3 separate regions of the Homo sapiens genome follow, and all the other regions are linked to region 2. The links come from fine-mapping of genetic effects on gene expression. A gene starts in region 2. Each other region holds a variant in brackets. All regions are shown on one strand. Distances are from middle to middle.

Region 1 (8,182 bases), 120 kb after region 2:
TGTGGAACTATCTCCAGTGAGTTTCTCTCTCCAGAAAGCGTTTGGATGGTTGGTGAGAAGCCTGATGCTGTGGGGCTGTGCTTCTCCACCCCAAGCCAAACTCCAGGCTATAGATGGAGAATAAAGGTCACCCCAAACACAGTGGAAAGGGTTGGAAGCCAAGCTGCTTTTAAATCATATTCTCAGGGCCTGAATTACTCCCCAAGAAATCAAAGGAAAAGCAAGAGGGACAAGAGTGCCAGCAGCTGGTCCTCATCCAGGAGATAGGGGAGAGAGCTGAAAGAAGGCTGCTGGGCTGCTTGAGGAGGGGAGGTGCGCTACTGACTAGGGCTGATGAAATGGGTCTCCCTTTAGTCTGGCCAGCTGGATGCAGCTTCTTGGTGGCCCAAAAGTGACTACTGGCTATGAAGTGAGTTGTTCCTAAGCACAATGACTGATGCCCCTGAGGATCAGGAAAGGGGTGTGAAGCCCACCCCTCTGCTGACTCAGAGTCTGGCATCAGAGGCACCAGAGGCCGGTGTGGCTACACCATTCCCTGTCCACAGTTATCAGTACCCATCCCACCTTTTAAAAAACTCTTTGGGGCCAGGTTTGGTGGCTCATCCCTGTAATCCCAGCGCTTTGGGAGGCTGAGGCAGGAGGACTGCTTGAGCCCAGGAGTTTGAGACCAGTCTAGGCAACATGGCAAAACCCTGTCTCTACAAAATACACAAAAATTAGCAGGGTGTGGTGTCACACACCTGTAGTACCAGCTACTCAAGAGGCTGAGGTGGGAGATCACTTGAGCCCGGGAGGTTGAGGCTGCAGTGAGCCATGGTCATGTGACCGCCTTCCAGCCTGAGTGACAGAGTGAGACCCTGTCTTTAAAAAAAACAAAAAAAACAAACCAAAACAAAAAACTCTTTGCTGTTGGGATGCTGAGTTACAGAGAGCTCCTTGCACCACACCATTCCCAACTATACCCACGCTCTTCTACTATGTAGACCACAGCACCATGCCGTAGAACTTTCTGTGATGATGGAGACGTTCTATATCTGCATGGTCCAATTCAGCAGCCACTAGCCACATGTGGCTACTGAGCAACTGAGATGTGGCTAGGGCAACTCGGGAAATAAATTTTTAATTTTATGTAATTTAGCTAATTTAAATGGCCACATGTGGCTAGTGGCTACTGTGCTCGAGAGCACAGAGAATGGAAATTTCTCTTTGCCTCAATAAAAGTAGAAAGTGCTGAAAGGAGAAAATGGGCTAACTCCACTCTGCTCCCAGTGGAAAATCCCCTATTTGCTCATAGTTTTAAGGGAAACAGAGGAGGGAAAATTATCGTGATGTATCATCAAGTTAGAATTATAAAAAGTTAGGGGCTCTAAGGGACAAAATAAAACACTGCCATCTCTGGAATCTTTCTAATGGGATCTGTCTTTTCCAGCAGCTCTAAAAGCAGAGCAAAGCCTACCCCCTGCCGCCACCACACTTAGAGGTTCGCAGCAATGGTCAGAGGAAGTATTTACGAGAGACCTAGGCCAGGATCTGCCCAAGGCCCCAGAAGCTTGGCAGAGCAAAGTACACAAGGTGCCTATCGCCAAAACAGGACTCTCTTTACCAAGTCAAGCATGTGATCTCAAGTTACCAGTCCAGCCTGCCCCTGAAATGAGACCATCATAACGTTAGAAAGGCTTTGCTTAAAGGAAGAATTCTGGTATACTTTGCTCATGACCAGAACCATCTGGAAGCAATCTAGCATTCACAAGATGGACTTTTCTTCTTTGGCCCTTGCTCTCTCTACAAATCCCATCAGCCCAGGAACAGCTGCTGGAGAATCTGGCCTGGCGCCAGGGGTGAAGTTTCAGCCCCCTCCCACACACATGTCCCTCTGGGTCCCTGGCTTGCTTGCCACCCCAGGTGGCTGGACATGGCACGAAGTACGCTGATCCTACTTGAGAAAGCGGAATAGCCAGTGGTCACAGGAGCAGAGACTTGGTGCCACAAAGCGAGCTGTGAGAAACTGCTGTTTCAACTCGGTAACATAGACACTTGCCAGTAAATTATGGCCTGAGACATCTCAGAGGGCTGCGGGTCGGGATACACTGCTCTCAAGGCAACACAATGCCAGCTACAGTGTGCATCCTGCAACAGCAGCTCAACACAAAGGGATGGGGAGGATGGGCCCCAGCTTGGGGATTCTGGCACCGGGACCAATGACACCATGCGCAGGAGGTGAGAGCCAAGGGGGTGATAGGGAGAGCAAGGGAAGACTCCATCAGGAATGAACTCAGCACTGGGGGCACTGCGAAGAGAATGGCTTTGTAAATCTAGCCACTGTGCAAACTATCTGAGGAGAGGGGGAAGGGGAGGTGGGGGAGCCAGGGAAGAGGCCAACTGCATTATGAAGGTCCTGGTGACAATAACCTTTTGTCCTCAAAACAATTTGAGCCTGCCAAGCTGCTCCACAGTCTCCGTGAAAGCATGAGGGTGGGAAAAAAAAGGATCCCCATTAAGAGGCAACAGACTCATCCTTAATTATGAGACAAGCCTTCCCAGAGCTGACATCCTCTCCCACACTTCCTCCTGCAGCAGACACACCACTGAGTGCCGGCGTGGTGCTCCTCTAATGAGAGCAGGCAATTTTTCTAAGAACTGGTCCTTTTGGGATCTTCCCCAGAACCCCCACCCCCAAATGACACAAGCTCTTAGTGAGAAGTGTGAAGCATCAGTTTAATTTGAGCAATGGTCTACAGGGTCAGACTGGGGACTAGAAAAGGGACGGCCTCAGCAGTCCTAAAATGCTTCATTCCATCCTCTTGACCCTATAGGATCGTCAAGACACCAGTCCTGGTGGACAGAGGGCCCCTGCTTAAATGTACACCGAAGCTCGAAACTGAATGATCATGTCTAATTATCCTAAAGAAAAGCTGACTGGCACACTGTATTAGAAAGAACCCCAACAAAAAGTCAGAAACCTGGATTCTAGTCCTTATTCTGACACATTTGCATCAGCTGTGTGCAAGCTGTGTCAGAAGCTGAGCAAACCACCTAATACCTCTAGGCCTCAATTTGCTCACCTGCAAAATGGGAGTAAGGGGGGGTCATTCCACATTTGGCAGTTTAGCACCTTAGTAAGCACCACACACTCTGAAGTTACGCTGCCTGGATTCATATCCCACTTTCTCCTCTTACGAGTTATGTAACCTTGAGCAACTTAGCTCTGTGCCTCAGTTTCCTCATCTGTAAAATGTACCTAGTTCACAGGACTGTTTTAAGCGTTAGGTATGAGGAATTAGGTAAAGCTCTCATCATAGTGTCTGGCCCTTAGCTCTTCCAATAATTGTCAGCCCCATTACCATGATGATTAGTGGAAGATGAGGAAGAAAAAAAATTCCACAACTAGGCATTTACTACAAGGATTAAACAGCTTTGCAGTAGGTGGACTTTTTACTTGTTAGAAGGTTTCAGAAGAATGGGTTCCAGGCTAGAGTGCAGTGGCATAACCATGGCTTGCTGCAGTCTCAACCTCCCAGGCCCAAGCAATCCTTCCACCTCAGCCTCCTGAGGAGCTGAGACCATAGGCATATGCCACCATGCCTGGCTAATTTAAAAAAAATTTGTTATAGAGATGGGGTCTCCTTATGTTGCCCAGGCTGGTCTTGAACTCCTGGGCTTAAGTGATCCTCCCATCTCGGCCTCTCAAAGTGCTAGGATTATGGGCATCAGCCACCATGCCCAGCCTCCCATCTTTAAGTCCTAAAAAATAACTGCTAGATCTAAGGCTTTCTGCTAGAGGGTAAAAACATTTTAAAAAGGAATTCATTAAAGTTGGGGGGAGTGCTTTACGTAGGCAGTAGTCTAAATTGAATGGATGATTGATTTACTGATTCATTTATTTATTTAGAGATGAGGTCTTGCTCTGTTGCCCAGGCTGGAATGCAGTGGCATGATTCTGGCTCAC[C/T]GCACCCTCGAATTCCTGGACTCAACTGATCCTACCACCTATGCCTCCCCAAATGCTGGGATTATAGGTATGAGCCACTGTGCTTGGCCTAAACTGGTTTTCAATTTCTTAGGTTCTTCTGACAAAGATGTAAAGGGCTTTTCTTCAACTTAAGTCCTATTTTCAAATCAAAAGTTGGAACAGGTAGGAAATGCACAAAGATGCACATAAATCTGCTTGTAGCCAAGGTTGTGAGCCAACAGCCGTTTGGGGAATTAGGCTGAAAACAAATCAGCAAATCACATCTGACTAAAGCCATTCTCAGTTGTGGCTCCTTCATTATTCATTACCTTCTGTGAAGTTCTATACAATTAAAAATAGCCCATTTGTGGACTGTTTATCTGCTTAGGACCATGCTAATGCAGAGAGAGAGAGAGAGAGAGAGAGAAAGAGAAGGAAAATGAGAAAGAGAACAAGAGCAAGTGTGCACGCAAGAGTGAAAGAAAGTAACTGTGTGCATATAAAGTTGGATATAATCTAGTCCCTGAACTTAGCTACATTTTTTTTTTAATTATAAAACCAGGACAATCTTTAGCCATTTTCTAAATATTAAAATGTACAAGCCACTAAAAACAAAAACAAAAAACAAAAACAAACAAAACACAAAAGCAGAGCTTCCAGGGTTTGGAGAAAGAAACATAAAAAAACTAACCTCATCACACATTCTACTTACAAAGAGAGGTTTGAGTGGAACCTTTACAGCCTTTGAAAGCATCTGGCCCATTAAAGTGACGATGCCTATTATCTCATTAGGAGTGCTTTTCAAAGTTAGTAACAATGAGCTGTTCTTCTCCCCCTTTGAATCAATACTAAGCATCTGCAACAAAGATACTTTTCCTTATTACAAAATCCTAGGCAGATATTTATCATTTGTTTTGACTACTTTAGATCTAATTTGCCTTTCTGGCATAGAAAGAACATAGGTACAGCCTTGCCTCAAGCTCAATCTGCTTTAAATGTGCACATCAACTGTCTGCAACATTGATCTCCCCACTTCTGTCAATTATACCTCCTTTATTCCTTTCAGCCAATACATAATTGCTGCCTGTTTACTATGTGTCAGGCACAGGACTAGGCACTGGTGTCCCCCTCAAGGAGCCTACAGACTTGTTAAAGAGACATATTTAAATAGGCAACTGGTGCTGTCAATGACTTAACCTCTTACCTTTATCCCTTGGCCTAAATCATTTAGTTTCTTATTCATTTTCGTTCCATGTTTTCTGCTTCTATCCCTCTATTTAGGCCTCGAGACCTCACATAAATGTTGTTATGATAGTTTTTCTCTGAGTACCTGAATCTGCTTTCTCTCCTAGTCAATCTCATTCCAACTTCTCTTAGAATGGCCCTCCAAAAACATCACTTTCATTTATTTCTCTTTCTCAGGAATATATAAGAGCACCCCATAGCCTCCCAGTAAATCTAAACTTGTCTGGCATCCCGTTTTCCCTATCATGTTCCCTCAGTACCAGCCCCATCTGTCTCCCATAGTCTCTCCTCTTCTATTTGGTCATGTTCCTTGCTGTCTTTTAGATCTACTCTTTTTATGTGTTTACAACCATGTGGGTTCCTAACGTTCCATCTTTCCAAACTCTACAGTTCCCAGACTAAACCCCATGATGCTTTGCTGAATTACACTAGCTCTCACATTAAACTTTTCCTGTACAAGTGCTGATTTTGCTAACTAAATAAAAATGGATTCACAAGAAAACCCAGTCAGGGTTGGTATGATGACCCTGGGGCATCAAAACTCCAGAACTCAGAGCTGCAAAGGTGAACCCTTTCTGATAAATCCATTCATATTTTAGAGCAGGGGTAAATTCTTAGGCTTGAGAACCAGTCTGTGATGCAACTACTTAATTGCCCTGTTGCAGTGTGAAGGCAGTCACAGATCAAACAAACAAATGGGTGTAGCTATATTTTTAAAAATTATTTCTGGAAGTAGATGGGGTAGGCAGAATTTGACTCTTAGGTCATAGTTTGCTAACCTTGTTGTAGAGGAAGAAGAGTGGATACAGGTGAGAAACTTCTCTTGGTTGGCAAAGGACAACCAGAAGCCCCTTGGCCTCTTATCTTCTCTGGGTAGCTCAACTTGTTCCCTGAAGACAGTATGTACCCTGGCAGTAGATCCCTGGCCAAGTCATCACCATGGGAATTTGGGCTGTGACCATCTGCTATTGCTATTTTGGTCAATGGGGAAGAGATAAGAAAATCTACTTAATCTACTTCTTTGACTCTTTTGGAGATATGGGGAAGAAAGGGTCCATGGTCTCATTCTCATATGGTCTCCAGACTGGCAGGAGGCTCGCTCGTTAGGACCCCAGGGCACAAGAGCAAATCTTCACCCACACAGTGCCAGGCACTGCGCTCTCATTTAATCCTTACATTAACCCTATAGTGTATAAGTACTTATCATATCTATCAGTCAGATAAAAGAAATAGCTGAGGTCTTAGTCAACATTAGCCACTGCTCCATCCTAGAAATGTTCTTGATGCTTACACAGTTGTGTTTTCGGAATACGACAACCCCCCTGACAAGAGTTCTTATTTCAATTTGAATGTGATATTAATGAGAATAGCTCATTAACTTTAGCCTTGATAATGAATCTTCAAAGGATATATCTTTTTATCACTTTATCCATGGAAAAATGGGCTCTAGAGGTTAAGCAATTTAACCAACTTTGCTCATTTAGAAGAATCAGAGTCAGGATTCAAACCCAAGTCAGTCTGGCTCAATAAACCTTTGGCCATTCTACCTCTTTAATAACCCTGACCTAAACACATAAAGCTTCATGTGTTTTTAAAGCCCTCAAATATTTGCTACATGTGAAGTGAGAAATCAGGTCAGTTTCCTGGGGTCCAATATCCCCAAGGAGGGCCTCGAAGAAGCAGAGAGGCAAACCAAGGCTCGTGATTTGGTCCTAAGCAAACATAGCAGAGGCAGGTGTACCCCCTTGTCTTTTACCACAAACCCTGGTCTCTGGCTGTGCTTCCTGATCCAAACTGTGTAACTGGCTGTTTATGGTGGTGATGCTTCCTTCACACACACTGTGTGGTTCCGAGGCAGAGGAAGGCATGTTCTTACCAGCCTGTCATATTAAAGTCCCTGTAGAGCATCTTCTTTCCAAGCTCCTTTCTCTGTACTCTCCTTGGAAACTCCAAATGTGTGAACTCATTTCCCAGCAAGTGAGGCTGCATGAATGCCTAATAGCAAAAAGAAAAAGAAAAAACACACACATACACGTATTTAGAGAAACAAAATAAGAATCAAGGATGTTTTGCAAATTGAGACAGGCCATATTTTAAAAACAAGAAAATTGCCTCATATTTTAAGTAAATAGATTTCAGAGTTTAAACACTAATAGAAGACGAGCACATAAAAATGAATTTACAAAGGAATGTAACTTTTTCATTTGATCTGATACATTAATTGTAACCAAATGCATAGCTGAAGGGATCAGGAAAAAAGACTGAGCTTCTCTCTAAAGAATGGCTTTTTAGTTTTCCAAATGGTATACTGGTGAGATACGGGGTGAGAAAGCTCCCTGACGTGGTCTTTTCCACACTCATCTCACTTACATCCTTGGTTATCACGGCCTTGCCTTTGAAACCTGTGTGTGAGCTTCCATGTAAACACAATGGCTTGAGTGCTGGTTGGGGCTGGATGCAGCAGACAGGAACTTTCTGTTGGACTCCCTCCAGTTTGCTCTGCAGTCATTTGATCGTGTCATTCGAAGACTATTCTGGAGCAGATGGCTTCTCCCCCTCCCCCAAATCTCTGTTCACACTACAAAAGTCTTGAGCAAACAGCCACTTAGGGAATTGCTTTGAAACAACAGTCTCATTGTCACATTCAAAATTCAAATCTAGCAATCCGAGAGACGCAATGCTCACGTACTAACTTCTCTACTCAGAGGCCACATGCTGCAAGCAGGCCTGCACTAGAACTTCCCCACATGAAGCTGTCTACCTGCTTCTGAGCAGCATGGTGGAATGGATCTTCTTTCTTTTCTGGCAGGGAAAAGAGTGGGCAGAGCAAATCACAGCCTGGCAGTGTAGGAAAGCAAGGGATCTCTGCCACCAGGCAGATGGTCAGGTCCTCAGTGTATGGGTCATAGGCATCTCTTACAGCTACTTTGCTAGGACCCAATGCCGGCGGATCTCTCACTGATTCTCATGAAGGTCTGGAGGTATTAGTTA
Region 2 (8,182 bases):
GATGGATTCAGCACCTAAATTTGGAATAATCATGTCTTTTCTGTTATGTGGGTAGAGAGATTATATATCTTTTCTCAAAGTAAAGTATTTAAAACCTGTTTAAATGAGGGTTTTGGCTGGCGTGGTGGCCCACACCTGTAATCCCAGCACTTTGGGAAGCCAAGGTGGGAGTATCACTTGAGGCCAGGAGTTTGAGACTAGCCTAGACAACATAGCAAGATCCTATCTCTAGTTCAAAAAAATATTTTTAATTAGGGTTTTGGTTTTTTATGATTTTGGGGGGTGGGGGAGATATTTGTTTTTTTGAGGCAGACGTTTAAACTTTTAGATTTATCCCATCTTAATATTGATTTATATTGACACTGCCTACTTACAAGAATAATTTGAGGCAGCATATTGCCCATGTATTTCAACTATTTTCATTTTTCTGTTGCAAAGCAGTCTTTGATGGAAGACCCGGAATCTTATAGTTCTCATATCTGAGTCTTTCTGGAGTGTATTTGGTGTCTGTGTGATTGGTTCACCCAGAGGTCACCCAGAGGTCAATTGAAACCTTCCTAATTGTACTATGGTATTGATTCTATCCCCTCAAGTATGAAAAAATTAAATTTTCAGACCATTTTCAGTTGCTGCGAATGTAGTTACACTAAGTTTTATTTTAAACTAAAATTCAATAAACAGTGCAGCCAGGGAAGATCTGCTAAACCATGCCGTTATTTGGAAAATCATTGCAATATATTAACAACTGCTTCCTTCTATGATGTTTACTAGATGGAGAAAAATACTCCATACCTATATTGCAATTTTATTTTTATCTAGAAAAAGAAAATATTAGGCTTCAGACCCAACTGTGCAAATTTCATTTGCTTTCCATCTCTTACTACTACCTCTGTGTCATAATTTAACACGTAACATACAACTCCTGTCTCTTAAGGCAGCTACCATATGGTGTTTATGTCAGACTGGATATATTTATCTAATTTTGTGAAATTATTTTTTAGTTCCCAACACAATTCTTGAAAGTAATACCACTGTTGTTACTCTTTCTCCTTACAATTTTTATGTTGTTGAGATGTATCAGTTATGTATTATAATCATGAAATTGTATTGGCCTCAAACCCAAATTTTCTTTGTAGTCTAGGATAGATTTTTCATGAAAGCTATATAGTTATAACTGTGATTGTACAGATTGTTTATTTGTTTTACAGCTAACATTAAGCATGATTCCAGGTTTTTAATTATGTTCCAGCAACACTAGTGTTTCTTTATAACTTAAAATCATAACCACTTTGATAATTTACCTTTGGATCTGACCAGTGATTCATTTTTTTCTTGAATATACTTTGTGTTTGCTTTCTCATCCCCGTTAAGTCTGAAACATTATTGACACCCCACATCACTTACTCTGTTTAAAGACTTTACGAGTAGTGAGTCACATGTTTAGGATGATCACTTTGGGAAAAAAAAAATTATAGAGTAAAGGGGAAATGTTCTTGAGAGCTTTATTAAAACCATTAATATATAAAATGAAAAAATAATAAACAGAAGACACGAAGTGTCTCTCAATAGTTTAGAAAGAAAGATTTGGAACTTTAAGTAAAAATGCTAGGTCAAGTAAAAATCCTGATGTAGATTAGATTATCTTAATCTTATGAGCATTTTTTTTTAATTTGGTGAAGCTGTTTTGAAACTGCCTGTCCATATCAATGCCAGACTATCTCTCTACCTCTCAAAGAAAATAATTTGCATTAAAATTCCTTTTTTTGTTATGTAATGAAAGTATAAAACAAGAATTTGTACGTTACTCAGTGTGTACTGCAGTCAGATATAGTTAAAATAATTTTTCTGATGCGTAATTTTAACCACCATTTCTGGAGTACCTAGTATGTGCAGGCCAAGGCTTTGCCTATATTATTCCCTTTAATCCTCAAAGTAGCCTTGCAAAGAAGTTATTTTCATTTTACAGAAGAGTCAAGGATTAGGGGGTTGAAGTGAGCTGCCTAGAGTCACATACCTAAAGTCCAGGTGGATCACTATGTCTTGCTTTTTCAAAAGCAGTTCTTTCTACTACAGTACAATAGTTTCATGTTTTACAGTCCATTAAAATCCAAGACTTATAAAATAAACTAAAAATACTCTTGAGGCAATTACTATTTCTATGATGGGCACTGGGACAAATATACTTGAACATAACAAAGAACTAAAAATACTGTGAAAAAAAGATTTGTCTTAACGATGACCTTGAAAGTTGCATTGGGTTTTTATTATTGGTCCAGGTTTAAAACATTTTATCTATTTAAAACATATGTTGTGTGTTTTAAGAAGTTATGTTATAAATAACAGCATTGTGGTTAAGAGCCCAGAGTCTGGGGCCAGGCTTCTTAGATGCAAATCCCAACTCTGTTATTTTACTAAATGTGTGACCTTGGGCAAGTTAATTAACCTGTTTTGGTGTCCTCCTCTGTGAAATGGAGTTAATCGTGGTATTTAACAGAATTCAAAATGTAGTGTGTTCTAAAGCGCTGTGCCTGGAGCATCATCACCACTAGGTGGTTAGGGAAGTAAAACACATTTGGCACACATCATTCAAGAATGGCCAGAAAATCCATGTCTTCCCACAATAGGGACCAATTTTTTGCCTTTCACCAGACAACCACTGAATGTTAAGAATCTACTGTGTGCTAATAACTGTGTCCTTGCTGTATGACAGAAGCTATTTGGAGCGCTCTCAAGTGCTTATTACAGCTAGTCAAGGAAACCGCATATATAAAATAATACTGGATACAAGACTATACAATTAAATACTGGTGTATCACTAACAACTGTTTAGACCCTGTTTTTGCGTTAAGCATTGGGTTAGTCTCTGTCCTCATGGAGTTTTCAGTTTTATAGGGAATACAGACCTTTTAACAAGTATGTAAAGTACAGTAAAAGACAAGTACAGATTAAAATGAAATCATAAAATAGGAACCTTAGCCTAGTCTTCTGTGGTTCAGGTTAATAGTGCTGTTAGTAGTCAGAAGGAAGTTTTTTAAAGAAATGAAAAAGCTCAGTGGTTAAGATAGAAATTAAAGTTAGTCTTGATGGCTACCTAGATTTTGGATGAGTTCAAAGGATATACGGAGGGATTTCAGGCAAGATAATGTGAGCAAGGCATATCTGTGAAATAGAAAACAGTGCATTTTGGTGTATTGTGTGAAACAAGGTTGGTTGTGAAGGATTGGGTCCCTTCATAAAATTCCTTGAAAGCCAAGGAGAGTAGTTTAGATTTGAGATGGCAGGGTCTGGAGTGATTTAAGAATAAATTATAAAACCAAGGAAGATAAACTTGCAATCATAAGCAGGATAGGATATATACAGTATGGAAAGCTAAGCTAGAAAGCTGTTGCAATTTTCTTGCTATGAGGTGATGATAAAGAATTGATTAACGGTGGTCATATTCAGAAAGGATACTTAAGATTCCTGATATGCAGGGAGGGGGGAGAAAAAGTTGATGGTAACAGTACATTATATGTGGATGATGAGTATATTGGTGTTAGCACTGTTAAAAACATTATGGAAAGGAATGTAAGTGATAAAGTAGTATAATGACTAAATTTAGTTGGAAACTACTGCTGTAACAAATCTGTATACCATAGACCAAACAGGTGTTTAGTGGCCATTTAAAAATCTGTGCCATTATGGCAAAGGACATTTGCTTTGGTACAGAATAATCTGATCCACTGCGCAGTCAATGAGCAGTGAGGGTTGATTCCCATGGCAGTCCAATCTTTGCTTATCAAGGAAGGATGGTGTGAAGTTTCTACAGACTTTCTGGTAAGTGATTGATAGATGAGTTTATGGTGTGATTGAGTTTTTGCTTTGAGTTTATGCTTAGTGATTGATAGGTGAGTTTATGCTTTGTCAGGTAAAGCATTTAACTGCAAATGTATTATGTTTACACAAATATTCTTAATTGGAAATAGTTTCTGAATATGCACCTAAAAATGTTCTTATGAAATATGTCAGGCAGGCTGATTTTTAACTTGAAAACTTCTACTTTAAGAAATTGTTTGGGTCCCATCGCCTATACCATGTAGAATAGAAACAAAAAGCCAGTTATTTAATTTTTAATTTGCAATTAAACTCTTGGCCAAGAGGATCTGTTGTCCAAAATTACATCGTGATAGCTTAAGAAAAAAAAAATCTTACTTTGCCAGAAAGGGAATTATACAAGGATATCTTTATGAGTTGCTGCCAAATTTTGTTCTAGACCACGGCCCTCTGGCCTCCATGAAGGATCAAAGTCTGGGCAAAGACAATTCTAAGTTGTAGGTAAACATGCTTTTCATTTCCCTCCATTCCTTACTTTTGTCATAAGCAGTCTGGATTTTCAGGGGTAAAGGCTGATAGGGTTGCCAGATACAGTCATTAAAAATTGAGAATGTGCAGTTAAATTGGAATATCAGATAAACAATTTTAAAAATATATGTAACACACATATGCCAAAACACTGGTTATCTGAAATTCCAATTTAACTGGGCGTCCTGTATTTTATCTGACAAGCCCTAACTACTTCTTTAAAATAATTTGTTAACTTCCTACAAAAAATCTCTAAATGGGAGGAAAAAAAAAATCCCGTAAGTTGTCTGGGCCAAAAGCAGAAGTGGCTCCATGGCAGTCAGCCTTCTCCCTAACTTGGCTTAAAAAGAAAAAGCCAAAACCAGAAGTCCCAAAAGCTTGCGTTTAAAGCGGGCTGTGCCGCAGCTTTCCCGCCTGTTTTCTGCGGAATGTAGCACGGCAGCCACCCCGCGTGGGTGGGGCTCGTATGGTTGTGTCCTTGCTGGTTGGGAAAGGAGGTGCCGGAAACTTCAAACCACGGCCAGGGTACAACGTGTCCGCTTAGGCGGCGATATGCGCCGCCATCTTCTTTGCGGGCAAAGGCCGAAAAAAGTTTGGGACTCCACTCCCCCCCGCTGAGCCGATGGAGGGCATCGCCCGCTGCCTCAGCACTCTGGTGACGTGGAATCGGGGTCCCCTCTTTCAGGGCTGATTTCTGGTAGCACGCTGACGCCTGCCAAGGCAGGGAAAGGGGACGCCGCCTCTGTCCCGGATGTAAGATGGCGGCGCGGGGGGCGGCCTGGCGGGGCGGTCACGTGGTGAGGAGTAGCGCGCGAGCCTCCTTAAGTGATCTCTAAGGTTCGTCCGGACGCACAGGAGCAGCGGAGCGCGAGACGGGTCTTGTGTCCGCACGCGTCGAGTCGTCGCAGTCGCCACCCGGGCCATCGCCGGGCCCGGTTTCACTGTTAAGGGGTTTTCGTTTGTTCCGTTTTCGCCTCCTGTAGAGCTGAACGGGAATTCCCCGAAGGGTGCTGGGGAACGGGTGGCCTGGGGACTTCCCGGCTATGCCTTGGCTGCTGTTTGGCGGAGCCGGCGGCAGCCTCTGCGGGATGCCCGCCGGCGATTATCGGCGCCGAGAGCGGGCCGGCGGCGGGTTCGACAGCGCGGCGCGGGTGGGGGCCCGGGTACCGGACTCGGCCGCAGCCCAGCCCCCACCGGGGACTCGGAGCAGGGAGGGGCGCGAGCGGCGCAGCTCGGGACGTGGCGGCAGCTCCTAGCGGGCGAAGCGCGGGAGCGCTGCTCGCTGCCTCTCGGGGGCAGTCCAGAACCAGTTGGTGTCTGACTGCGCTTTTGCCGCCCATTTCCTGCTTTCGAGCGGCTGAGGCGACGCGCTCCCCTCGGGCAGTGGAGGGAGCGGCTCTCTCCGCAGGACACCGCCGCTTTTCTCTCTTCAGAGCGGTGGCTGACGTACAGAACGCCGGCTGTATCACCCGGGCGCCGGCGCCGCCTCTCATCCCCGTAGCTCTCGGGGCGCGCCGGGAGTAGCCGAGCCGCTGGGTGCTGGGCGGGGTCTCCGGGCGCGGCGCGGGGGGAAGGCAAAGGAAAAGAAGGGGCGGCGGGCCGACGTCGGCGGCGAGGAAGGACGGAGGAGCGCCGGAGCCGCTTTGCTGCCCTCCGCGTGGTCCCGTGCCTCCCCGACACCATGGCCCTGGCTGAGGTAGTAGTTTGTGCTGTTGGTCGGGTTGTGACATTGCCCGCTGTGGAGATAACTGCGCAAGCTACTGCCTTGCTAGTGCTGGTGATGCTCAGCGCCGCGGAGGACAATGGCTGGGAATCCCCTTTGTTTTCCGGGGCGCTGCCTGGGGACAGCCCGCGAAGCCTCGGCGCCCGGCCGGCGCGGCCACCACGGAAACCGTTAGTTTCACATTTTCCTAGAAGGAATTGAGGGGAGTGGGGTGGACCGCGATGCATTTTAAAGGTTGGGAAAGAGCTAAGCCATTGGATTCCTTTTCTTGAAGGAAGGAGTGGAATTGTGTAAGATAATTGATACAGATAACTTTTTCACCCTAAAAAATTCTAACACTTCTTTCAGCAGTTAAATGCCAAATTTAGTGTGTACCTGTTTTACTTCATTCTTTAGCTGTAGGTTGGAGTGGTGTGAGCGATCTGCAGAACTGGCATTAGAGGGGCAGAAGAAGTAGACCTGATAATTAAAGTTTATGCCTTAACATTTTAGATCTGGTTTCTGATATGCTCTCTTAGTAAATCTGAGTGTGTCTTTAAAAACGTAAACCCAAAGCAATTTAAAGTTTCTCTTTAAACTTTGCAACTCGCGAATGAGAAGATTGAAATTATTTGTAGGTAATTGCACTATTCCGATTTTTTAATGTATGAGGCAAACAAATAAATTCTATGTACAGTGTGCTGTGAATGGTTTTGTTTTTTGTTTTTTCTTTTTAGTTTAACCTTGGGGCTCAGATTCTGCTGGTGTGGTGGGTTGGTTTTTTGGTTTTTATGGCCTTTGATTCTAATGTTATGTGGTACTTACATCTTTGAGGTTTTGTATGGGAGAAGAGGACTAGGAATTGAAAGTGGTTTCTAGATTTGAGTTTAAAATCTACTAACACTCATTTTGATTCCTGAGTGGCCACTACTCCTAATAGGAAAATACCTTTGCATAGAGAAAAAAGGTAGTTTGGATAACTAATGAAAATACTCAGTGCTCTAATACCCTGAAGTCTGCGTGGAAAACAAGATACTTGTATTTTTATTTTATTTTCACTGAGGGAAGTAAGTGGTCAGTTTTAGTACTTTTCGTTGAAAACTGATCTGTATTTGTACAGAATAAGTAGTTTTGAATATAATGTAATCGCAGTTTTCTATGGTTTTCTGATGCTCAGTTGAAAAACAAATAAGGCAGTTCTTTAAACCAACCAAACCCTTCAGCAGGAGTTTGATGCTTTTATCATTCAAAAGTGATCTAATATATGTGCCTTGATTGGGTTTGGTTTAGCCTTGAGAATAACCTTACTTAATCTGATCTCATCAGGATGGAGCCGCCTCATTGTGGGAAGGGCGGTGAAGAACCTTATCTTGAATCTTAAGATGCAGAAAATGCTTGAATGTTGGCTCTTGAAGTTTGCTTTTCTTGATAGCAACGCAGAGTAAATTCAGGGCTTTGTTAAGTGCTTGTTTTCTTAAATAATGAAAACCTCTGCGGTGCTGTGTCAAATCTTGGTTTATGGAGAAACTAATCATAACATGCTAATTTCATTATGATTTTATTTTCCAAAACACTTCATTCAACCAACCGAGGTAATCTTCCAACCCACTACACTCTAACATTTTTATGGAGAATCAACGGTTGTTAATCTGCACCCCAAAGTATAACAAATTCTGCTGGTAATTTAAACTTTAAGCGGATAAGCACACCAGAAATGCTCAATGTCCTATACAGATAAACTATTCATACTTTATATCTTGTGTTTTTAAAGTAAATTTTATCCACAACTACATATTGCCCAAATAGTAGTAACATTTTTGAGTTATTGGATGTAAAGGTACTTTGAGAGGTTAACTGTTTCCTAAGTTACAAGAGAAAATACTGCCACCAGCTGACTTGTTTTAATCCCATAGCTATATTTCTGCTCTAATCTCCAGTTTTAAAAATGATCTGCTAATTACATTTCTCTACACACCAACTGAAAATTACCAACTGAACATTTTCCTTGTTGACAGTTTCCCACAAGATGAATTTGATTTATCAAAAATACAGCTTTCTGAACTTAGTATTATTGACATTTACTTGGTGCAGTTAACTTTTTTGTTAAAGGTCTGTTGTCAAGCATTTAAGTAATTTGTA
Region 3 (8,182 bases), 51 kb after region 2:
ATCTTTTCCCAAAATGTAGGACACCTAATGTGAGATTATTGTTTACATGGTAGTGGGATAAGGCACTAAATACATTAGATAATGTCTTACATTATTCACCTCCTCAGTCCTCTTTTGATGTTTTTGATTGATTACATTGAGGGGAGTCTCAGTTTGCTGCTAGTATAGCTCAAAGAGCTGCTCAAGCTCAGAGCTTTCCATGACAAATGGTATCTAGCTTAAAAAGTACATGGGAAAAATCAGAACTTTTGTTTTCAATATATTTAGTTTTAGAGTTATATTGCTTTTGTGACAAAGAATAGTCATTTTCTATTTATGGTAAAAATCATTTAAAATAAATTTTTTAAAAAAGTGAGTTAAGGAAAAATGTTAAAAATAATACAACCTGGCATAAGCATATAGCAAGAATGTGAAGTTTTTTGGTTTTTTTTTTTAATTTATTTAATTTTTTTTTTTGTAAATGACTGATAAGCCTTGGTGTGAGTGAGCTGCTTACTTGTCAGCGTCACCCTCTCCTCTTGACCAATGTAAGTTCAGCAAGGGATCCCTTAAGAATTTGAAAATAAGATTGCTGAGATTTAAACTGTAAGCTTAAGGAGAAAGAATGACACTGTAAGCTGATGGGAAAGTATTAACATCTAGGAGAAAGACTAACTTGGGAAGTGATTTGGGTGGGTATGGGCCTGGGTTAGCCCTGAGGCATAAAAAAATGAGACAAAACATTGGCAGGTGTCTATCCAAACACTGACCAGAGCAGAGGGAGTCATAGTTGACAGCCTTCAAAGGAACTTAGTTCCACTGGCAGGGTCATATTTGGTGTGGGATGGACTATTTTCTTAGTCTATACCATTAAGCATATGATTCAGCTTTATTCTGATTTCGTGTTCACCAAAGAACCTCCTGATTATGATCTGCCTCCCTGTGTAGGCCTGCCTGCAGGAAAGAATGAGCTAGTCGTTTTTACTTTAAGAATATCCATCAGTTATATTTCTTTGCTTAAATGTCAAGTGGCATTTTGCTTTACAGATCAATCTTGTGAGCTTGGTTAAGGTGAGACCAACTCTGATAATGAATCTCTTTTCTGTATCTTGATTAAATCAGTTTCTGAACCTGAAAAGCTAAGAGCCAGACTGGTAAATCATCAAGATAATAAATGTCACCGTATAAGTCCTCTTGGAAGCCAGCCTGTGGGCCTTTTACAAGGGACCACCCTGATATTGCTAGTGACCTTTCTCTACTTGGAATGTTTCAGTAGTCTCGCCTTCAGAGCTGTGAGTTATGGAATTCAGAACCCCAGAAGCCTCTCCATTTCTTTTGCTAAAATTCACAGACTTTCATGTTGAGAACTGCATCATTGTTACATTATTTAAGAACAAGTCCTCTAACAAATGATCCCAGGATTGTGAAGATTCCAAGTTGTTCAGTCTTTGAGGATCAAGTCTATTTGTACAGCCCAGATAGCAGACAGAAGTGTAACATACACTACAGCAGAAAGGATATTATAGTCAATACAAAATAAATACCTTTCCTTCTAGAGGATGGGGTAGTAGGTGAATAATTTTTTCTATCTGTATTGAGAGAATTATCATCTTTGAGGCAGAAATCTTTAAGTTATTCTTGAGGGAAGATGCAAACAGTTCGTCCTGAGGTTCTCCTCCTCTTGAGATCAGGAAATAAAGGCCTCCAAAGAGATCTTTGGCTGAAGAGCTAAGTAAATATCTGAAAATCGACATATTGCAGCTCATACACTATAGTCAGAAAAGCCTCTCAGCTGCTCACCTCATTCTCACACTGCTATGAAGAACTACCTGAGACTGGGTAATTTATAAGCAAAAGAGGTTTAATTGTCTCACAGTTCCGTATGGCTGGGAAAGTCTTAGGAAACTTAAAATCATGCCGGATGGTGAAGGTGAAGCGAGGCATGTCTTACATGGCAGCGGGAGACAGTGAGTGAAGGGGGGAAATGCCACACTTTTAAACCATCAGATCTCGTAAGAACTCACTCACTCACTATCGTAAGAACAGCATGGGGGAACTCGGTCCCCATGATCTAATTGCCTCCCACCAGGTCCCTCTCCTGACATGTAGGGATTACAATTCGACATAAGATTTGGGTGGGGACACAGAGCCAAACCATATCACCCCAGCTTACTCTTAGTTTTATATTAAATTGTATATGAGACATAAACACATGGGGAAAGGCCACCAGCCACACCAGAGTGATGTTTATTATCCTGGTGATTGATCAGTCTGCACCTGAGCTTTTTAGGTTCAGAAACCTGGCTAAGTTTATTTGCCTATCAGGCCTGAACACACCTTAACCCAGGTATGAGCTGACTAGACATAGAAAATTATGGTATGCTATGAGAAAATATGCCTGACAATAAAAGATACTCAATCCTTTTGTAGTTCATAAGCTTGATGTTTGAGTTTTCACACTTACGTGTGAAATGTGCCTCCCTTAAACCTTGTTACTACGTCAGCACATTACCCATGAGACATGGAAAAAGAGATAGACAGACACTCAAAGATGTCAAAAAACAGATACAGGAACTCAAAACACAACTCTTTATGGCTATTTTAAGCTCCAAACAGGCCTCAACAGGTCCTGCAGTCATGGAGAAATGACTGGCTTTATTAGAGTCATGAAAGATGAACAAGAGACCACCCTGATGCTGCTATTACTAGTGACTTTGCATATTTTTTAAATGGTCAAAATTAGCTTGGTATTTTTAAAAAGCAAGGATTAGGTCACCTAGAAAAGATGGCTACCCAGGAAACTCATTTCCCTGAGGGCTGTAGGTAATTAAGGTTTCATTCTTCAATATGGTTATTTCCTATTCCAAGATAACTTCCTTTGAGATTGGTTCTCTCTTCACCATCCACTCTGTTTTCCCTTAGGTGCTTAACTTCCTGAGGGAAAATCCACTCTTGCTTTCTCAATTTATTACTTCCCATTTTCTTCCTTTGTCTCTTACCAGTAGGCCCAATACTCTACTAATCTGTCCTCTTAAAGCTTGATCCAAGGGTGGCTTCTCAATACTTATTCTGCTTAACCCTTTGTGTTCAGCACAAATACTGCTGATTATTTTATCCTTAAAAATCTCTGTTCTTGAATTCTCCTTTCTTTCTGGGGCTCCCATGCCATAACCCACTCCAAGTTCTCCTGTGACTGGGCTTCCATGACACACAGCACAAGTCCTTCTCTCTGATGCTCCTTCTTAATTTCCTTTGTAGGCCCTAACTAAGACTTAGGAAGAACTCAATGATCATTAATTTCTTTTTACTTCCAAAGTGGAACATCCCCAGCTATCATCCTTAGTTAATGGTATCCTGGTCTCTTAGGCAAGAAATCATAGTGTTTTTCAATGCCACTTTCACACCCTGATATTGTTCAATTATGAAATCCACAGGGCAGTGTAGGACTTCTAAACTTTGCATTATTATTATTCAGAGACAGGGCCTCGCTCTGTCATCCAGGCTGGAGTGCAGTGGCATAATCATAGCTCACTGTAACCTTGAAGTCTTGGGGTCAAGTGATCCTCTCACCTCAGCTTCCCAAGTAGCTAGGACTAAGGCATATTCCACCATGCCCAGCTAATAAACTTTGCATTATTTTAAGTGTATTTTATTAGTAGCACATGGCTAATTAAAACAAAATCCATATAGTCACTAAGATGATAATTTTGTTTATTGCAAAAACTGGTAGACCTGTACCTATATTTTGCAGTCATATATACACACACATATGAAAACTTATTTTGTGTTTTTAATTTATTATGTGCTTCTTTCCTTCTTTCTTGTTTTCTGTCAGGTGGATAGCTTTAATATTCCCCTCCCCCAACTGGATTGGAAGTGTTATTTCTATTATCAGTTATGTTAAATTTTTAGTATATAAGTTAATCGTATTTCTGTCCTCCTGAAAATAAAAGGACCTTAGAATGCCTTCTTTCATTTTCCATGTTACTGCCTATTATTTTAATTCACCTTTTTTTGAGCCTGCCTTAATCATTATCATTTACAATCTACACTTACATAAATAAACCAACATACTAACTTCTTTGCTTTTTATGAAACTACTCCTTGCTTCTGGATTTAATTTCCTTCCATTGAATTACATTTTTAGTAATTTTTTTAACAATGGTCTGTGAGTGGT[A/G]AGCTCACCTAGTCTTTGGATTAAGAAAATCTTTATTTTTACCTTTGATTTTGGCTGATAGCTTTATTGTTATGCAATTCTAGATTGTCTGTTATTTTCCCTCAGCAGTTTGAAGACATTATTCTGCTTACTTCTGACTTCTACTCTTTTTGAGAAGTCTGTCTTTTATCATTCCTTTATAGGTAAATGGCTTTTGTCATTGATAGCTTTTCAAGTTTTTGTGTTTTTGTTGCTGATATGAAGTACCACTAAGACATAACAAAAAGGAGCTTTTTACTTATCATGGTAAGAAATTAGTTTTACTCTTTCAAACTGAAAACTTCTGAAAAATTCTCAGCCATCAACTTTTTGGATATTGCCTCTCCTCTATTTTGTAGATATTCTCCATAAACTCTTATTAGATCTTATTTTACCTTGCAGATTTCAACTTCTCTGCGATATCTTTCAATTCACTAACTCCCTTTAGCAGTTTACTATCCATTTAGTGAATTACTTTGTTTCAATGACAGTGTTTCACCGTTGTGAATTTCTCTTTGGTTCTTGTCCAAAGAACCAAATTGACCTCTTCTGACCTTATGATTCTATTTGCACAAGTTTAACTCTCTTCTAAACTTGTTCTGTTACACCCAGGTTTTCTTTGAGGGCCCGGAGGGAAGGCTCTATTGTATTTGGTTATTCTTTTTCATGGTGAGTGTGAAGAAGAATAAGTGCTTCTTCAGAAGGGGTTGTTCACATGTGCCCTGGGTTATCCAAAGAGATTTAAAATTTGCCTTTACTGAGGGGCAGTATGGATTTCTGTAGTGCTAGAACATGTTCATTTCAGCTTTTTGGCTTAGGATCCCCATACCACAGGAGTAGTATTGTTAGAGTAGGCAGTTAGGTAGACATGATCAGGGCAGGGGAGGGCCCTCCCCCAGGAATGTCTGGCGACCATCAGGTGATAGTCAGGCCATTGTTAAACCCTCTAAAATAACAATTGGTCACAGCTGGCACCAGGGAAATGCAGTCTCCCAATAGAAAACACCTGGCCAGGTGCAGTGGCTTACGCTTGTAATCCTAGCACTCTGGGAGGTCAAGGCGGGTGGATTAACTCGGGCCCAGGAGTTAGACACCAGCCTAGGCAATGTGGTGAATCCTGTCTCTACAAAAAAATACAAAAATTAGCTGGGCACATGCCTGTCGTCCCAGCTACTCGGGAGGCTGAGGTGGGAAGATCTCTAGAGCCTGGGAAGCGAGGCTGTGCCACTGCACTCCAATCTGGGTGACAGAGAGAGACTCTTTCTCAAAAAAAAAAAAAAAAAAAAAAAAGCAACACCTGAAGCAGGTGATCAGCCTCCTGATAAGGTCTCAGGAGATAGGCGAGTGGGCACACGCACTAGGAGGCAAAATGGCCGAGTTTAACTATCATATGGCCTTCCTCCAGAAACACTCAACAGATAAGGGAAAAACAAATGAGCATGCGTACTTCAGTAAGCACACTGCATATGCAGCCCCTCCCAACTGTTGGCAGGCCACTGTGCATGCAGACAGCCCACCCCAAGGGAAGAATCAGGGGAGAAGAAACGCAAATCATGCCAATGTATAAAACCCCAAGTCAAGGCCGGACAAGGCACTTGGATCTCTCAAGTTGGCCGCTTGGCCGCTTGGTCCTCTTCCAAATGTACTTTACTTCCCTTCGTTCCTCCTCTAAAACTTGCCTCGGTCTCTCACTCTGCCTTTTGTCCCTGGGCTGAATTCTTTCCTCCAAGGCAGCAAGAACTGAGTTGCTGCAGACCTGTATGGATTCGCCGCTGCTAACCATATGAGGTTTAACTTCACACTTTTCCTGTGTGGTAAACCTACCCAGCCATTTCCTCCTCCTCATAAAACCTCAGTCTTGTCAGGCAGCTGCCCTGATCCATGTACCCATGTGCTTCAGAAGCGTAAGGACAGCCCCGCCTGAGGGAGAAGTTTAGGGAAGATTCCTAGGACCTGTTCTTCCTACCCTGTTCCCAGGAGGTCGGATTCCTTCACACGGCTTCTCTCCGCCGGCTTCTCCAGTGCATGTCTATCCCTCCTTGTCCAAGAGCAGTGTGCGTGGACAACTGAGCCGTTAGATGCTGCACTCCATAGGTGACAGTACGAATGCTCTAGGACCAGCTTCCTGACATTCCCTTCATGCCACAGGAGACCAGCATTGCAGTGAAACTCAGCAACAGCATTAGGGGAAGATGAAGTCACTCGCAGGAGCTTTCCTCATAGATTCATTAACTCAACACAACCCCGGGGACTCAGCTCTTGGGAGAAGGCCTTTTGTGTCAGCTAGCTACCATATTGGGCCAGGCTGGTGGCCATTTCAGAGCTCATTTGCATCCATCTTCGGAGCCACCTTGCCATATGAAATGCATGAAATCCTTTGCTAGGCTGCTTTATGTCAAGACTGGGGCAAGAACAAACAAACAACTTTCTCTGAAGGAAAAGAACTGCTTCTCCTGCCCCCATTGTATTCTCCAATTTCTACCTTACATCAGGGATCCCTGGGTTGGTGACAGTGAAAGTGCTTAAGGTGGTATTAAAACAGGAAGGCTTTATTGGTTTTGTTATTGAGGCTGAACACAAGGGCATTTAGGTGCCATCAAAGGAGAACTGTAGAAAGTAGTAGAAGAAAATTTGAGTCAAAACATACATACTGTATAAGCATAAAATATCCAAGAGAGCAGCCAAGAAGAATATGGTACAGCTGGAGACAGCCAATGGGTAGTGGATTCTGTTACACACCAACTGGGACTGTGTGGCAGCCGGAGCCCGATGCTTCTGGAAGCTGTGTGTGGAGCAGCCCTAGTGCCGTCACTGAATGCTGGGCCAGGCTGCATTAGACAACTGCGGAGGAGTTTGAAATGCCCACTCCTAATGAAGAGTCTCCCCAGGAGACATGTTTTGAATTTTGAGAACATTTTTCTTCTCTAGCTGAAGCTTTCAATATTTATCAGCAAAGCTCTGCTGAAAGCAATGGCTGCTGGGCAGGGATCAGACTTGGCAAACTCCACAGGGCTCAGGCTCTGAGCGGGAGGGAGCAGAGAAAGGACAGCAGGGGAGGCATGGAAAACAAAAAGGAAGAGGGGCTGAAGAGCGATGGGAAGGCCAAAGCTCTTTTCATAACCACTGACTCTTAAAGTCAGGCGGAAGGAGGCCATAAATCCTCGATTGTCCTCTTGTCCTTGCAGATTCTGTTGCTGTCCTTAGTTCTTTTCCTTCCTAATGGACCAGAAAAGGGCTCTGGGTGTAAGCGTGGCTTGCCCAGGTTCCAATCCTGGCTTTCCCACCATCCAGATGGGTGGCTCTGGAAGAAGTTTTTAGCCTCTTGGAGCCCCTCTTTCCTTACTCAATAATAGTGCAGACCTCCAAGGCTCCTGTAACAGCCATGTGATCTTTCCATAAAGCATTCAGCACAGTGCCTGGCACACAATCGGAGGTCAATAAGTGTTAGTTATGTTCCTTATTAGATATTAAATGCCTTTCTCCTCCCCAGGAGTTTTGTCATAAGTCATCTACGTCTTATAGTCTGTTTTCTGAATCTTTAGCATCTGAATCAGCACAACAGTGTCAAAAATAAGTCAATTTCAGGCTGCAGGCTATCACCGTATCTTAAAGTTCTTAATAGTTCTTGTTGGGTGGGAACTTCAATTTGCCATTTGGATGGTACAGACAGGGTCTTATAAGAGGGTGAGTAGTGGCAGGAACTGGGGAATTAATGGCTTCCAAATATTTGCATATAAAAGGCAGGCTCCATCTGCTGACACCCGCAGTAATACAGTGTGAGGGGAACAGGAGGAGGAATCCCCTTTGCATTCTGAGCAGGCCTCAGAAATTTAAGAGGTAGAAAAGCTCTCCCAGCTTTGGAATGTTGGCAGGGGTCTATGGCAGTGGCGTCTTGGTGGGTGGAGGGTCAGGGGTGGCTTAGAATAGGGAATGGCCTTTGTTGTGCCCAGAACTAGGCAACTCATCCTGGGAAGAGGCACACATCTTAGATTCACTGCTGAGAGCTGG

The links. PIP is the estimated chance that this variant, and not a neighbour inherited with it, causes the effect.
Region 1: its variant is fine-mapped to the expression of MIRLET7IHG in thyroid (GTEx, PIP 0.94).
Region 3: its variant is fine-mapped to the expression of MIRLET7IHG in anterior cingulate cortex (GTEx, PIP 0.97).

Annotation. Positions count from the first base shown.
Region 1 is chr12:62,713,104-62,721,285 of GRCh38, forward strand. PPM1H (protein phosphatase, Mg2+/Mn2+ dependent 1H) reads right to left here. Exons shown (of 10, transcript NM_020700.2): 6 at 7,068-7,186. Among named protein-coding and RNA genes, the nearest start is that of MIRLET7I, 110 kb to the left of the region's middle. RefSeq lists an enhancer at 4,465-4,977. The variant C/T (reference allele first, on the strand shown) is at 3,947.
Region 2 is chr12:62,597,658-62,605,839 of GRCh38, forward strand. It overlaps MIRLET7IHG (MIRLET7I host gene), which reads left to right and starts at 5,086. Exons shown (of 2, transcript NR_186001.1): 1 at 5,086-5,178. MON2 (MON2 regulator of endosome-to-Golgi trafficking) reads left to right here. Exons shown (of 35, transcript NM_015026.3): 35 at 1-2,819. LINC01465 (long intergenic non-protein coding RNA 1465) reads right to left here and starts at 5,777. Exons shown (of 1, transcript NR_121682.1): 1 at 4,094-5,777. It overlaps MIRLET7I (microRNA let-7i), which reads left to right and starts at 6,029; the gene lies at 6,029-6,112. RefSeq lists enhancers at 4,380-4,903, 4,904-5,425, 4,940-5,049, 5,130-5,319, 5,426-5,947 and 1 more and silencers at 5,400-5,709, 5,800-6,099.
Region 3 is chr12:62,648,778-62,656,959 of GRCh38, forward strand. All of the region lies in intron 9 of PPM1H (protein phosphatase, Mg2+/Mn2+ dependent 1H), which reads right to left. It overlaps LOC124903103 (small nucleolar RNA U13), which reads left to right and starts at 2,398; the gene lies at 2,398-2,501. RefSeq lists enhancers at 4,592-5,213, 5,214-5,835, 7,078-7,698. The variant A/G (reference allele first, on the strand shown) is at 4,157.